Linked DNA regions of Homo sapiens: region 1 is linked to region 2. A link means that fine-mapping ties the variant in region 2 to the expression of a gene that starts in the linked region. Tissue or cell type: whole blood. Region 2 holds a variant in brackets; the other region holds the start of a gene. All regions are shown on one strand. Distances are from middle to middle.

Region 1 (8,103 bases), 170 kb after region 2:
AACTGATAATTACCATGATCAGGAAAGGCTGATGTGGCACAGAAGGCAAGAGCAACAGGACATTTGAACGTTAAATAACACAGAATTCAGGGAGTGTGGTCCTTTCTTCCCACTTAAGCCCTGTCAAAGAAGATAAACCTAACCTCATCCTTTTCCTCTTTCTTCTTGCTGTGATTTAAGTTGATTCAATAAATCCCATGAATGGCATATTTTAATTTGGTATATGACCTTTCTGTAACGCGACTGTACGTTCCTGCTTGCGCTATGGGATACATGGAAGGTAGTTGATGGTACCAGGCGGTAAGACTACAGAAGCAGAGGTCCCCAAGTTAGAGAGAAAGGCTACGAGGCCTGGGGCATTCTTGAAATTATCAGCACCAGCATGAACTGGGGACAAATCAGGTGGGGTGGACTGTTAGGCACTGATATTACCAAGAGAACCAATTCACAAATTGACCAGTCATAGATTTGAGACCTAAATTCACCAGAAATCATAATATCCAGAGTATAAGAATCTACACATGCATTTCAACTCCTCCTTCTTCATCCACTAGAATATGCAAACTCCCACTTTCAGCCCACCAATCTTTAATATATCCTGATGCCACATTGGATAGAACAGCAGGAGAAGCAGAAAATCTGACTCAGGATTCACCTGAGAGAAACAGAATCATCCAAAAGTGACATTTAAAATTAGAAGAGACTAAAATAACATGAACTGGCAACTGTAATTCCCTACACCACCTCAGAATAGGTGGTTTACTGAAAATAAAATAGATTTGTTACAGTAAAGCAGCTAAATTTTCTTTGTACACATGATTGGCAATACATTTTTGAGCCTACAACAGTATCATGAGCAGCAAAATTTCTTAACACTAACAACATGGCAAAGAGTTTAAAAAAGAAAAGAAATGAGGAAGATAAAGTAGGTTAGTCAATGGACATAGAAACTGAGTTTATTGGAACCAATTTGTGTCCCACTTCAAGAGTCCACACACACATACAGACACACAAAGATACACACAGACACACACACACACACACACGTACGTACTACAGATATCTAGTACTCATTATACTGTCTGAAGTATTAATGTCTTCAGCAGCAGGATATTTCAGTAGTTGCTACATATATGTATAAGTATGTAAGTCCTAAATGTTGGGGTTCAAAAAGCTATACCCCAAAATATGGTGCTTTGGCATGCTGGGTATTTTTAATTAAAATGTCTCAGAAATAAGCCTCAGAACCAAGGTCTCTCTCTGCCTTTCCACTCTCCTGCCCTCCCTCAGTCTCTCTTTTTCTTTCCTAAAGCACTGAGAGTGACTCTCTCTGGAATTTCCTTATCTGATTAAGGAAGCTTCTTTCCAAAAGAAATGCAATTGTCTTAAGATCTACTTCCTGAGAATCTCATCAAATAACCATGAAAAATTAACCATCAGAAAAGAGACTAAAAGCTGTCACCATATCCACACTGACTTTTCATCTATTCTTCTGAGGACAGCTCCAAGAGATTGGCTGGGAGACTTTATCTGCATAAAAACACAACCTTCATTCCACCCCTCACCTTTCCACCACCTCACCATAGCTCAGGGAAACGCTGTCCCAGGCCATGCTCTTTGAACCCATTCATTCACTTTAAAAATTATTTACTACCTCTCTAAAATTACCTGCAGCTCCCTACTTCTCTCTTCCCCAAAAAGAAGGCATTTAAGCTTCAACCACCTGGCCCTTCTTTGAATCTCATATTTGAGGGGCTCTCATATCCATATACATATTAATAAATTTGTAACTCTTTTTCTCCTATTAATCTATTGCCAATTGTTTCAATAAAATTGCAGAAAGGGCAGAGGAAAAGCTTTCTCTTCACTCCTACACAAAGTAAAAAGTAGTGTATCAGCTCATTGAATGTATTAATGTGTGACTTAGTTCTCCCTTTTTTGTCACGATGTTTAAAATTTTTTTTGTTGTTCTCCAAAAGCTATCTTTTTCCAGATATGCTATGGTACAACTGTTGAAAATGTATTTCCTCCTACAGTAAAACCAAGACAGCACAATCAAAGGCCAACCTTAAGGAGAAGGGTAGAAATGATTGAGAATTACTCATCTACCAGAGTGAATAATCTCTTACACTGTGTGATTTTTATGTCAACTTTAACTGAAATTTTATACATGCTTTGGATATAAATTAAGGGAAAATATAAAGTTTTATACATGAGTCAGTGTGCATTCCAGTCAAGGTAGAGATCAATATATTGCAGGTCAAGGGAAAGAAGTAAAGATCTAATCAGACAATCAGAGATGACTACCAATCTTCATGACCTATCTGCTGCCTCATTCTACACATTTTCAGTTCTGTATTGTTTCTTTTATAAAGCTAGAAAAATAGAAGGGCCACCTCTGCAGTAAAGTAAAAGTCAGTATTTTACACATAGATAAATCAGATTTTGAAGGAAACTCTTTGGGGTGATAAAAAAAGAATAACCACATGGATACCTGGATGCTACTAAGCCTCAGAGTTAAAAGGAAGACAGAGTGACATACATGGTGCTGAAAAGTTTTGAGCCTGGAAACAAGGTCATCCTGCAGTTTCACTAAGAAAACTTAATCTATAGGGCTGGTCTACCATTTGGTGACCATTTGGTGACCATTTGGTGTCTGTGTGTCAAAAATTGCTCAGATATTTCTAAACACTTCAGAATGCCATCAGAAGCTACAGCAAATTGCAGCTCTTTCTGAAACACACACAAAAAAAGAGGATCTGGCCTGAGTGTGATTTTTTAAGTGAGCAGTTAAGGTGATAATAAGGAAGAAGATATTTCTCATTTAATACATTCTAGAAAATAAAATGTCCCTATGGAATACAATAGCAACTTGAAACATAAATATGTGTAATTCTCATACAGATATATGCATTTTCTATATAGTACAATCAAAATTTAAATTACAGCATTCTGCAAATTATATAATTGACAATTTTTGATTATTACAAAAGGTTTTGTACAAGCACCAGCAGAATAATTTAGAAATTCATAAATTCTAAAAATTCTAAAACTCCAGAAATATGCACATTTTCCCAAGGATTTTATTTCAGTGTTATTTATTAATGCTACTGTGTTATAACAACCATTCATTTCTACAGTTTAAGGATACACAAACATTTATCAACTGAGCTTCTCCACCATCACTTTCAGCAATCATGCTGAAACAGAAACTCCAGAATTACTAAACGAAAATAGAAATATAAAACAGAAAAATGTCACACACATACTCAAAAGTAATAAATTAATGGTTACTTCAATTCCTCCTCAAGCTAGCCACAAGATTTCTCTAATAGCTATAATGAAGCATTCATGTTTAACTATTCAGGGACAAGAAAGTCTAAAATGCTTGAAAGTGCTCTACTTTAAATCAAGTTGACTTAACGGAATAAATCAGCATGCATCTTTCACCTTTTTTGGAAACTAAAGTGCACAAATATGCTGAATGCCATCCCAAATCCTGCCTAATACCCATTTAAGTAGATAGGAATTTAAGTAACAAATCTTTCCCCACCTCCTGGGAAGGAAAAATAAGTTACACAAACATCTCATCAAAACAAGGAAGGCAAGGCCCTCTCCTAAAAACTGGCAGTAAACACAGAAGACAGAAGAAGGCCTATACTTACACAGATGGCTAGAGCTCCTGCCCCCATTCTCTCAGAAAGCGTCTGGAAGAACTGAGGAAGACCAGACGAAAATATTAAAACGACAGCAAAATACTAAAATTCCATTCAGCACATATTCTTTGATGTGAAAAACAGCTCCCAATGCAAAGGCCCCAAGGTAAGCGAAGAGCAGCTTCTAACATTTTAGGAAGAGTGGTTTTGCTTCTCTTTCCGCTGAACCCACATGGCTGGAAGGACTGCCTGGAGTTGAAATTTGATCCACAGCCTCAGTGCTGGCAAGTAGAGGGAGTCACGTGACACGGGTCTTAAGTCGCTGACATCTTTTTTTCAAACCTGACTCCCTAGATCCTACACACAGGCTTCTTTGACTCCGAAAACTGCCAGTCACCTGGTGGCTTTCATTAATAGAACCAACAGTGCATAAAGTGAAAACACAGACTTGCTTCCCAGATTCCACACAGCTCTAAGCAAAATGTACGTATTCAGACTCAGGTTTAAAACTGCAGGCACATTATTCATTTTTTCTGAGGCAGTTTTCTCTTCTACTCTTCCTTAGAAACCAGCTAAATTCTACCAAAATTTTCTTCCTTCCATGCTACCCCATCAGAATTGTTTTAAATGAAAATGCTCTATTTTATGTAGCCGTTACTACTTCTAATTATGTATGAGTTGTCTTATAAAAATATACTGATGATAAACATAAACAACATACTTCTAGACAACCATAATTCTACATATGTGATTTGCAGTCTGAAAAATTAGCTAACTGACTTTTCAATAACTTTCTCTTCCACATGCTGTCACTAGAAAATTTGATAGATTTTAAAATTTACAAATATTTGAACTAATAGCTAAAATAGCCACTTCAGGTAAGCCAAAAGGAAACTATCCTATTTTTATTTTTGTTACCATTTTTTCTGTCAATTTGTTTTTCTTTTTTCTTTTGCTGTACCTATTGACCCATCCTCTAAGTTCTCTCCCCTCACCCCCAACCTCCCAACAGGCCCTGATGTGTGTTGTTTCCCCTTTGTGTCCATGTGTTCTCAATGTTCAACTCCCACTTATGAGTGAGAACATGTGGTGTCTGGTTTTCTGTTCCTGTGGTAGTTTGCTGAGGATGACGGCTTCTAGCTTCATACATGTCCATGCAAAAGACATGATCTTGTTCCTTATTATGGCTGCATAGTATTCCATGGTGTATATGTACCACATTTTCTTTATCCAGTCTATCATTGATGGGCATTTGAGTGGGTTCCATGTCTTTGCTATTGTAAACAGTGCTGCGATAAACATATGTGTGTATGTGTCTTTATAGCAGAATGATTTATACTCCTTTGGGTATATACCCAGTAATGGGACTGCTGGGTCAAATGGTATTTCTGGTTCTAGATCCTTGAGGAATCTCCATACTGTCTTCCACAATGGTTGAACTAATTACATTCCCACGGACAGTGTAAAAGCGTTCCTATTTCTCCACATCCTCTCTAGCATCTGTTGTTTCCTGACTTCTCAATAATTGCCATTCTAACTGGCTCGAGATAGTATCTCATTGTGGTTTTGATTTGCATTTCTCTGATGATCAGTGATGGTGAGCTTTTCTTCATAGGTTTGTTGGCTACATAAATGTCTTCTTTTGAGAAGTGTCTGTTCATATCCTTTGCCCACTTTTTGATGGGGTAGTTTGTCTTTTTCCTGTAAATTTGTTTAAGTTCCTTATGGATTCTGGATATGAGACCTTTGTCAGATGCATAGTTTGCAAATATTTTCTCCCATTCTGTAGGCTGCTTGTTCACTCTGATGATAGTTTCTTTTGCTGTGCAAAAGCTCTTTAGTTTAATTAGATCCCATTTGTCAATTTTGGCTTCTGTTGCCATTGCTTTTGGCATTTTTGTCTCTGCCCATGCCTATGCCCTGAATGGTATTGCCTAGGTTTTCTTCTAGGGTTTTTATAGTTTTGGGTTTTACATTTAAGTCTTTAATCCATCTTGAGATAATTTTTGTATAAGGTCTAAGGAAGGGGTCCAGTTTCAGTTTTTTGCATATAACTAGCCAGTTTTCCCAGGACCATTTACTGAATGGGAGATCATTTTCCCATTGCTTGTTTTTTGTCAGATTTGACGAAGATTAGATTGTTGTAGACATGTGGTGTTATTTCTGAGGTCTCCGTTCTGCTCCATTGGTCTGTATGTCTGTTTTGGTACCAGTACTGTGCTGTTTTGGTTACTGTAGCCTTGTAGTATAGTTTGAAGTCAGGTAGCATGATGCCTCCTGCTTTGTTCTTTTTGCTTAGGATTGTCTTGTCTATATGGGGTCTTCTTTGATTCTGGATGAAATTTAAAATAGTTTTTCTAATTCTGTGAAGAATGTCAATGGTAGTTTGATGGGAATAGCATTGAATCTATAGATTACTTTGGGCAGTAGGGCCATTTTCATGATCATGATTCTTCCTATCCACGAGGATAGAATGTTTTTCCATTTGTTTGTGTTCTCTCTTATATCCTTGAGCAGTGGTTTGTAGTTCTCCTTGAAGAGGTCCTTCACATCCCTTGATAGCTGTATACCTATGTATTTTATTCTCTTTGTAGCGATTGTGAATGGGAGTTCATTCATGATTTGCCTCTCTGCTTGCCTATTGTTGGTGTAAATGAATGCTTGTGATTTTTATACATTGATTTTGTATCCTGAGACCTTGCTGAAGTTCCTTATCAGTTCAAGAAGTTTTGGGGCTGAGATGATGGGGCTTCCTAAATATAAAATCAAGTCGTCTGCAAACAGAGATAACTTGATTTCTTCTCTTCCTATTTGAATACCCTTTATTTCTTTCTCTTGTTTGATTGCCTTGGCCAGAACTTCCAATACTATGTTGAATACAAGTGGTGAGAGAGGGCATCCTTGTCTTGTACCAGTTTTCAAAGGGAATGCTTCCAGCTTTTGCCCATTCAATATGATATTGGCTGTGGATCTCTCATAAATAGCTTTTATTATTTTGAGATCTGTTCCATCAATAACTAGTTTATTGAGAGTTTTTAACATGAAGGGATGTTGAATTTTATCAAAGGCCTTTTCTGCATCTGTTGAGATAATCATGTGGTTTTTGTCTTTGGTTCTGTTTATGTGATGGATTATATTTATTGATTTGTGTATGTTGAACCAGCCTTGCATCCCAGAGATGAAGCCGACTTGATCATGGTGGATAAGTTTTTTGATGTGCTGCTGGTTTCAGTTTGCCAGTATTTTACTGAGGATTTTTCACATCAATGTTCATCTATGGTATTGGCCTGAAGTTTTTTTGTGGTTGTTGTGTTTCTTCCCAGTTTGGGTACCAGGATGATGCTGGCTTCATAAAATGAGTTAAGGAGGAGTCCCTCCTTCTAAATTGTTTAGAATAGTTTCAGAAGGAATGGTACCAGCTCCTCTTTGTATTTCTGGTAGAATTCAGCTGTGAATCCATCTGGTCCTGGGCTTTTTTGGTTGGTAAGCTATTAATTACTACATCAGTTTCAGGCTTGTTATTGGTCTATGCAGGGATTCAACTTCTTCCTGGTTCAGTCTTGGTAAGGTGTATGCATCCAGGAGTTTAATCATTTCTTCTAAATTTTCTAGTTTGTTTGCATAGAGGTGTTTGTAGTATTCTCTGATGGTAGTTTGTATTTCTGTAGGATCAGTGGTGATATCCCTTTTATCATTTTTTTATTGGGTCTATTTGATTCTTCCTTCTCTGTTTTCTTCTTTATTAGTCTAGCCAGCAGTCTATCTATTTTGTTAATTTTTTCAAAAAAAACCAATCTTCTGGATTTATTTTTTTGGAGGGTTTTTTGTGTCTCTATCTCCTTCAATTCTTCTCTGATCTTAGTTATTTCTTGTCTTATGCTAGCTTTTGGATTAGTTTCCTCTTGCCTCTAACTCTTTTGTGATGTTAGGGTGTCAATTTGAGATCTTTGTAGCTTTCTGATGTGGGCATTTAGTGCTATAAATTTCCCTCTTAACACTGCTTTAGCTGTGTCCCAGATATTTTGGTACGTTCTTTGTTCTCATTGGTTTCAAAGAACTTCTTTGAATTTCTGCCTTAATTTCATTATTTACCCAGAAGTCATTCAGGAGCAGGCTGTTCAATTTCCATGAAATTGTGTGGTTTTGAGTGAGTTTATTAATCCTGAGTTCTAATTTGATTGCACTGAGAGACTGTTTATGATTTCAGTTCTTTTACATTTGCTGAGGAGTGTTTTACTTCCAATTACATGGTAAATTTTAGAATAATTGCCATGTGGCACTGAGAACAATTTATAGTCTGTTTATTTGGGGTAGAGAGTTCTGTAGACATCTACTAGGTCCACTTGATCCAGAGCTGAGTTCAAATCCTGAATATCCTTGTTAGTTTTCTGTCTCTTTGATCTGTCTAATACTGATAGTGAGATGTTAAAGTCTTCCACTACTATTG
Region 2 (8,108 bases):
TTATCACAATGAGCACAAAGTACAAACTTATGGAGCCTGATAGTATGAAACTCAACATGTAATTTTCCACAGCAATATCCACATTGTAGGTAAGGTGTTAGATTCCTAGGATATCCTACTAAAGTCTATTTAGCTAATTACTTTGTGAGTTTGGTAGGCTGGCCTGATAGGAAACTATATTCTAAACAGCATGGTTGATATATAAAACGGTCTTTAGAATGAATGTTGGGAATAAGTTGTGTGCAATCAGACACCTTTATATATAAAACACATCTAATATTGGTAGCTGAGAATAGCTGCTGTCATGATGGAGAACAATTAATACAGCCACTATAAAAGCAATATAGAGCTTTAGCACTTAAGAAACGCTGTGAGACACAGGTTAAGAGGTAAGAACAAAAAAGACCCTTTCACTAATCCCTAGATGCTTACTAAGTTCCAGGCAGTACACCCAATTATTTACATCTATTATTAGTATCTTTGATTCTCACAAAAACTCTGCAAAGCAGGTAGTATAACATGCTATAGCATATAAGACTAGAAAAGTGGGAAGTAATATAAGGGTAAAGAGTTCATGCTTTAGCATCAAATATATCTGATATGTATTATATGCACAATCTTGGTTAAGTTAACTAGTCTCTCTAAGCCTGCTTTCTTACCTATTAAAAAAAAAAGAAGAAGGAAAATATGGTAGAATGTTACTGCTGTTCACCAAATACTGGTAAAGCCATCCTTCCTTCTAGGCACATCCTAGGGTTGTACTCACTGTCTGATTGTGGGCCTGGGGATGGAGGTGCGGCATGTGATTAGCTCTGGCCAATGGGTTCTGAGCAGAAGGAATGGAGTTACTTCTGGACCACCAGAGCATTTCATTGTTACTGCAAGGTCCTACAGAACTCTTTCCTTTTCCTTGGGTACAATAACTGGTTACATTTGCGAGGGGCTGCTCTGTCAGGCCAGGTGCCTGAGTGACCAGCAAGAGCAGAGTCTCCCTGTTAATCTAAATTGGGCAGGCAGCATGAGCAAGAAAAAAAAATGTTGTCTTAAGCCATTAAGATAATGGGATTGTTTATTACTGAAGTATAACCAAGACTATTCAGGCTGAATTTTTATTCTATAGTGTTGTGAGCATTTAATGAAGTAATATGAGAAGTATTTTTCAGTGTTTAGCATAGAGTAAATACTTAAGTCACACCTACCTATATTATTATTATATATTATTATTCCTCTCTAATAAATTAGAATACTGAAAATATAAAATCCAAGGGAAGCTCCGACTTAGAAGGAGAGAGCAGCATGTGGAGACTCACACTGTGAACTTTTGCTCCTAGAACTACCACAGGGACATAGCAGGAAAGCCAAGAGAAGCCACAGACCCTTTGAAGGAAGTGGATTGCTGCTGTAGGCTCCAGGAGACAGCTGAAAAATTCTGAGAGCCCAAAGTGTGAAAGTGTGAAAGGCGAACCGTCCAGCCCCGAACACACACCCTCACTGGGAAACCTGAAGGTCCAGATGACAGGAGAAGGTTTGACCTTACCTGGAGCTGAGACAAATTTAGAGAGCCAAGCGAAATATCAGAGTAGAGGAAGCAGCAGGAAGAGCTCTGTGGGCACTCTTGGTCCACAGGGAAGCCATTTCTGACTTTGTCTCATAGGGGTCCTTGGGCAGGACTGCCAAAGGAACTGGGAAAAAAAACCACAGGGAGAAGGAACCTTCTAGCTGAACTTCACAACAATTTCCACCGAACGCAGAGTTTCCTGGACAGAATCTGAGGAAGGGGGCATTGGAATCAGGAGTGCAGACACAGCACAGAAGCCATGGCAGGTGGGGAGGTGCAAACCATGAAAGCCCTGCTTGCTTTCTCAGCCGGGAGGCTGGCAGCCTGGGGCAAATTCTCAGCCCTGTTTAGCAGCTGCCTGGAAATAAACTCAGAGCTGTTGCGGGTGGTGCGGTGGGGGGCGGGGGGGGGGGGGGCACAGTGGGAGTGAGACTGGCCTTTTGGGCTGCGTGGGAGGTGAGTGAGGCCTGTAACTGCTGGCTTTTCCCCACTCCCTTGGGGACCTGAATGAGGCAGCAGAGGCAGCCATAATTCCCCTAGGAACATAACTCCATTGGCCTGAGAACCATGCCCCTATCCCCGACAGCAGCCACAGCAAGTCCCGCCCAAGAAGAGTCTGAGCCTAACCCTGCCCCCACCTGATGGTCTTTCTCCACCAGCCCTGGTAGCTGAAGACAATGGACATAATTTCTTGGGAGCTCTATGGCGCTGCCCACCGCCTAATCCTCCCTATACTGCCACAGCTAATGCTCTCTTGAAACTGCCACCTCCTGGCTGGAAGCCAACCAAATAAAACTAGCCCAATAAACAAAACTACAACTAAGGACTCTCACAGAGCTCACTTCACTCTCCTGCTACTTTCACTTAAGTGGGGGCTCGTATCCATGTCTGAGAGACCTAAAAACAGTTCACATCACAGGACTCTGTGCAGACACTCCCAGTACTAGCCTGGAGCTTGGTAGCTCCACTGGGTGGCTAGATCCAGAAAAGGAGTAACAATCACAGCAGTTCAGCTCTCAGAAAGCCACATCCTTAGGGGAAGGGGGAGAGCACCACATCAAGGGAACACCCCATGGGAAAAAAGCATATAAACAGCTGACCTTGAGCTCCAGATCTTCCCTCTGACATAGTCTACCCAAATGAGAAGGAAACAGAAAAACAATTCTGGTAATATAACAACACGAGGTTCTTTAACACCCCCAAGAGATCATGCTAGCTCACCAGGAATTGATCCAAAACAAGAAGAAATCTCTGAATTGCCAGAAAAAGAATTCAGAAGGTTGATTAATAAGCTAATCAAGGAGGCACTACAGAAAGGTGAAGTCTAACTTAATGAAACAAAAAAAATGATATAACATATGAAGGGAAAAATCTTCAGTGAAATAGATAGCATAAATAAAAAACAATCACAACTTCTGGAAATGAAGGACACACTTAGAGAAATGTAAAATATACTGGAACGTGTCAGCGATAGAATCAAACAGGTAGAAGAAGGAATTTCAGAGGTCAAAGTAAAGGCTTTCAAATTAACTCAATCCAACAGAGACAAAGAAAAAAGAATTTAAAAAAAATGAAAAAAGACTTCAATAATTTTGGGATTATGTTAAATGACCAAACCTAACCATAATTGTTGTTCCCGAGGAAGATGATGAATCTAAAACTTGGGAAAACATATTTGAGGGAATAACCGAGGAAAACTTCCCTGGCCTTGCTAGAGATCTAGATATCCAAATACAAGAATCTCAAAGAACATCTGGGAAATTTATCATGAAAAGATCATCACCTAGGCACATAATCATAAGGTAATCTAAAGTCAGGATGAAGGAAAGAAAATTAAGAGCTGTGAGGCAAAAGCATTAGTTAACCTCTAAAGGAAAACCTATCAGATTAACTGCAGATTTCTCAGCAGAATCCCTACAAGCTAGAAGGGATTGGGGCTTATCTTTAGACTGCTTAAACAAAGTAATTATCAGCCAAGAATTTTGTATCCAGTGAAACTAAGCTTCATAAAGGAAGGAAAGTTACGGACTTTTTCAGACAATGCTGTATTGTCTTTTTCAGACAATACAATCTTTTTCAGACAATGCTGAGATAATTCACCACTACCAAGCCAGCACTACAAGAAAGGCTAAAAGGAGCTCTAAATTTTGAAAATATACCAA[C/A]ATAGAACCTCCTTAAAGCATAAATCTCATACCACCTACAAAACAAAAACACAATGGAAAAAAAAAAAACAAGGTCTTCAGGCAACAAACAGCATGATGAATAGAACAGTACCTCACATCTCAATACTAATGTTGAATGTAAATGGCATAAATGCTCAACTTAAAATACACACAATGGCAGAATGGATAAGAATTCACCAACCAACTATCTGCTATCTTCAAGAGACTCACCTAACACATAAAGACTCACATAAACTTAATGTAAAGGGTTGGAAAAAGATATTTAATGCAAATGGACAACAAAACAAGCAGGAGTAGCTATTCTTATATCAGACAAAACAAACTTTAAAGCAATAGCAGTTAAAAAAGACAGAGGGACATTATATAATGATTAAAGGACTTGTTCAACAGGAAAATATCACAATCCTAAATATAAATGTATCTACCACTGGAGCTCCCAAATTTATAAAATAATTACTACTACACCTAAGAAATAAGATAGACAGCAATACAATAATAGTCAGAGACTTCAATATTCCACTGACAGGACTAGACAGGTCATCAAGACAGAAAGTTAACAAAGAAACACTGGATTTAAACTATACCTTAAAACAAATAGACTTAAAAGATATTTACAGAACATTCTACTAAACAACTAGAGAATATACATTCTATTCATCAACACATGGAACATTCTCCAAGATAGACCACACGATAAGCCACAAAACAAGTATCAGTAAATTTAAGAAGATTGAAATATATCAAGTATGCTCTCAAGCCACAGTGGAATAAAATTGGAAATCAACTCCAAAAGAACCTTCAAAACCATGCAAATACATGGAAATTTAACAATCTGCTCCTGAATGATCATTGGGCCAACAATGAAATCAAGATGGAAATTAAAAAATTCATTGAACTCAATGATAATAGTGACACAACCTATCAAAACCTCTGTAATACAGCAAAGGTGGTGCTAAGGGGAAAGTTCATAGCCTTAAATGCCTACATCAAAAAGTCTGAAAGAGAACAAAGAGACAATCTAAGGTCACACCTCAAGGAACTGGAGAAACAAGAACAAACTAAACTCAAACCCAGCAGAAGAAAAGAAATAATGAAGATCAGAGCAGAACTAAATGAAATAGAAACAAACAAAAATACAAAAGATAAATGAAACAAAAACCTGGTTCTTTCAAAACATAAATAAAATTGATAGACCATTAGTGAGACTAACCACAAAAAGAGAGAAGATCCAAATAAGTTCAATTATAAATGAAACGAGAGGTATTACAATTGAAATTACCACAGAAATACAAAAGATCATTGAAGGCTACGATAAACACGTTTACACACATAAACTAGAAAACCAAGAGGAGATGGATAAATTTCTGGAAACAGACAACCCTCCTAGATTATACTAGGAAGAACTAGAAACTCTGCACAGATGAATAACAAGCAGCAAGATTGAAATGCTAATTAAAAATTGCCAAAAAAAAAGTCCAGGAAAAGATGGATTTACAGCTGAATTCTGTCAGACATTCAAAGAAGAATTGGTACCAATCCTATTGACACTATTCCACAAGATAGAGAAGGAAGGAATCCTCCCAATATCATTTTATGAAGCCAGTATCACCCTAATACCAAAACCAGGAAAGGACATAACAAAAAAAAGAAAACAACAGACCAATATCCCTGATGAACACAGATGCAAAAATCCTTAAGCTAACCAAATCCAACAGCATATCAAAAAGATAACCCACTATGATCAAGTGGGTTTCACACCAGGGATGCAGAGATGGCTTAACATATGCATGTCAATAAATGTGATACACCACATAAACAGAATTAAAACCAGAAATCACATGATCAGCTCAATAGAGGCACAAAAAGTATTTGACAAAATCCATCATCGCTTTATTATTAAAACCCTCAGCAAAACTGGCATAGAAGAGGCATACCTTAACGTAATAAAACCATCTAGGACAAACCCACAGCCAACATTATACTGAATGAGGAAAAGTTGAAAGCATTCTCCCTAAGAACTGAAACAAGACAAGGATCCCACTCTCTTCACTTCTATTCAACATAGTACTGGAAGTCCTAGCCAGAGCAATTAGACAAGAGAAAGAAAGAAAGCGGAACCAAACTGCTGAAGAGGAATCAAACTGTCGCTGTTTGCTGATGATCTGATTGTATATCTAAGAACCCTAAAGAGTCCTCCAAAAAGCTCCTAGAACTGATAAATGAATTCAGCAAAGTTTCAGGAAACAAAATTAATGCACACAAATCAGTAGCTGTGCTATACACCAACAGCAACCAAACTGAGAATAAAAGCAAGAACTCAACCCCTTTTAGAATAGCTGTAAAAAAATAAAATCAAATACTTAGGAATATATCTAAACAAGGAGGTGAAAGACCTCTACAAGGAAAACTACAAAACACTGCTGAAAGAAATCATAGATGGCACAAACAAATGGAAACACATCCTCTTCTCTTGGATAGGTAGAATCAATATTGTGAAAATGACCATACTGCCAAAAGCAATCTACAAATTCAATGTAATTCCCATCAAAATACCACCAATTGTTCTTAACAGAACCAGAAAAAAAAATCTGAAAATTCATATGGAACCAAAGGAACCAAAAAAGAGCCTGAATGGCCAATCCAAAACTAAGCAAAAAGAACAAATCTAGAGGCATCACATTACCCAACCTCAAACTATACTATAAGGCCATAGTCACCAAAACAGCATAGTAGTGGTATAAAAATAGGCACATAGACCAATGAAACAGGATAGAGAACCCAGAAATAATGCCAAATACAGCCAATGGATCTTCAATGAAGCAAACTAAAAGATAAAGTGGAGAAAGGACACCCTACTCAACAAATAGTGCTGGGATAATTGGCAAGCCACATGTAGAAGAATGAAACCAGATCCTCATCTCTCACCTTTTACAAAAATCAATTCAAGATGGATCAAAAACTTAAATCTAAGACCTGAGCCCACAAAAATTCTAGAAGGTGACACTGGAAAACCCCTTCTAGACATTGGCTTAGGCAAAGACTTCATGTCCAAGAACCCAAAAGCATATGCAACAATAACAAAGATAAATAGATGGGACCTAATTATACTAAAAAGCTTCTGCACAGCAAAAGAAACAATCAGCAGAGTAAGCAGACAACCCACAGAGTGGGAGAAAATCTTTGTAATCTATACATCTGACAAAGGACTAATATCCAGAATATACAAGGATCCAAACAAATTAGCAAAAAAAAAAAAAAATCACACAATCCCATCAAAAAGTGGGCTAAAGGCATGAATAGACAATTCTCAAAAGAAGATATACAAATGGCCAATAAACATATGAAAAAATGCTCAACATCACTAATGACCAGGGAAATGCAAATCAAAACCACAACGTGATACCACCTTACTCCTGCAAGAATGGCCATAAGCAAAAAATAAAAAAAAAAAATAGACGTTGGCATGGATGTGGTGAAAATGGAACACTTTTACACTGCTGGTGGGAATGAACACTAGTACAACTACTATGGAAAACAGTGTGGAGATTCCTTAAAGCACTAAAAGTAGATCTACCATTTGATCCAGCAATCCCACTACTGGGTATCTACCCAGAGGAAGATAAATCATTAAACAAAAGTAATACTTCCACACGCATGTTTATAGCAGCACAATTTGCAATTGCAAAAATATGGAGCCAGCCCAAATGCCTATCAATCAACGAGTGGATAAAGAAATTTTGGTGGCTGGGTGTGGTGGCTCACACCTGTAATCCCAGCACTTTGGGAGGCCGAGGCAGGCAGATCACCTGAGGTCAGGAGTTTGAAACCAGCCTGGCCAACATGGTGAAACCCCATCTCTACTAGAATTACAAAATTAGCCAGGCGTGGTGGCATGCACCTGTAGTCCCAGTTACTCAGGAGGCTGAGGCAGGAGAATTGCTTGAACCCAGGAGGCAGAGGTTGCAGTGAGCCAAGATCGCACCACTGCACTCCAGCCTGGATGACAAGAGTGAGACTCCATCTTAAAAAGAAAAAAAAAAGAAAGAAATTATGGTATATAGGCCTGGTGCAGTGGCTCACGCCTATAATCCCAGCACTTTGGGAGGCTGAAGTGGGTGGATCACTTGAGGTCAAGAGTTTGAGAACAGCCTGGCCAACATGGTGAAACCCCGTCTCTACTAATAATACAAAAATTAGCTGGGCATGGTGACGCATGCCTGTAATCCCAGCTATTCGGGAGGCTGAAGCACGAGAATCACTTGAACCCGGGAGGTGGAGGTTGCAGTGAGCTGAGATCATGCCATTGCACTCCAGCCTGGGCCACAAGAGTGAAACTCTATCTCAAAAAAAAAAAGAAAGAAATTATG

The links. PIP is the estimated chance that this variant, and not a neighbour inherited with it, causes the effect.
Region 1: it holds the start of FAM13A, and the variant in region 2 is fine-mapped to the expression of FAM13A in whole blood (TOPMed, PIP above 0.99).

Annotation. Positions count from the first base shown.
Region 1 is chr4:89,053,273-89,061,375 of GRCh38, forward strand. FAM13A (family with sequence similarity 13 member A) reads right to left here and starts at 3,913. Exons shown (of 24, transcript NM_014883.4): 1 at 3,666-3,913. The coding sequence starts at 3,692. RefSeq lists an enhancer at 3,214-3,776.
Region 2 is chr4:88,878,824-88,886,931 of GRCh38, forward strand. All of the region lies in intron 6 of FAM13A (family with sequence similarity 13 member A), which reads right to left. Among named protein-coding and RNA genes, the nearest start is that of FAM13A-AS1, 170 kb to the left of the region's middle. The variant C/A (reference allele first, on the strand shown) is at 3,721.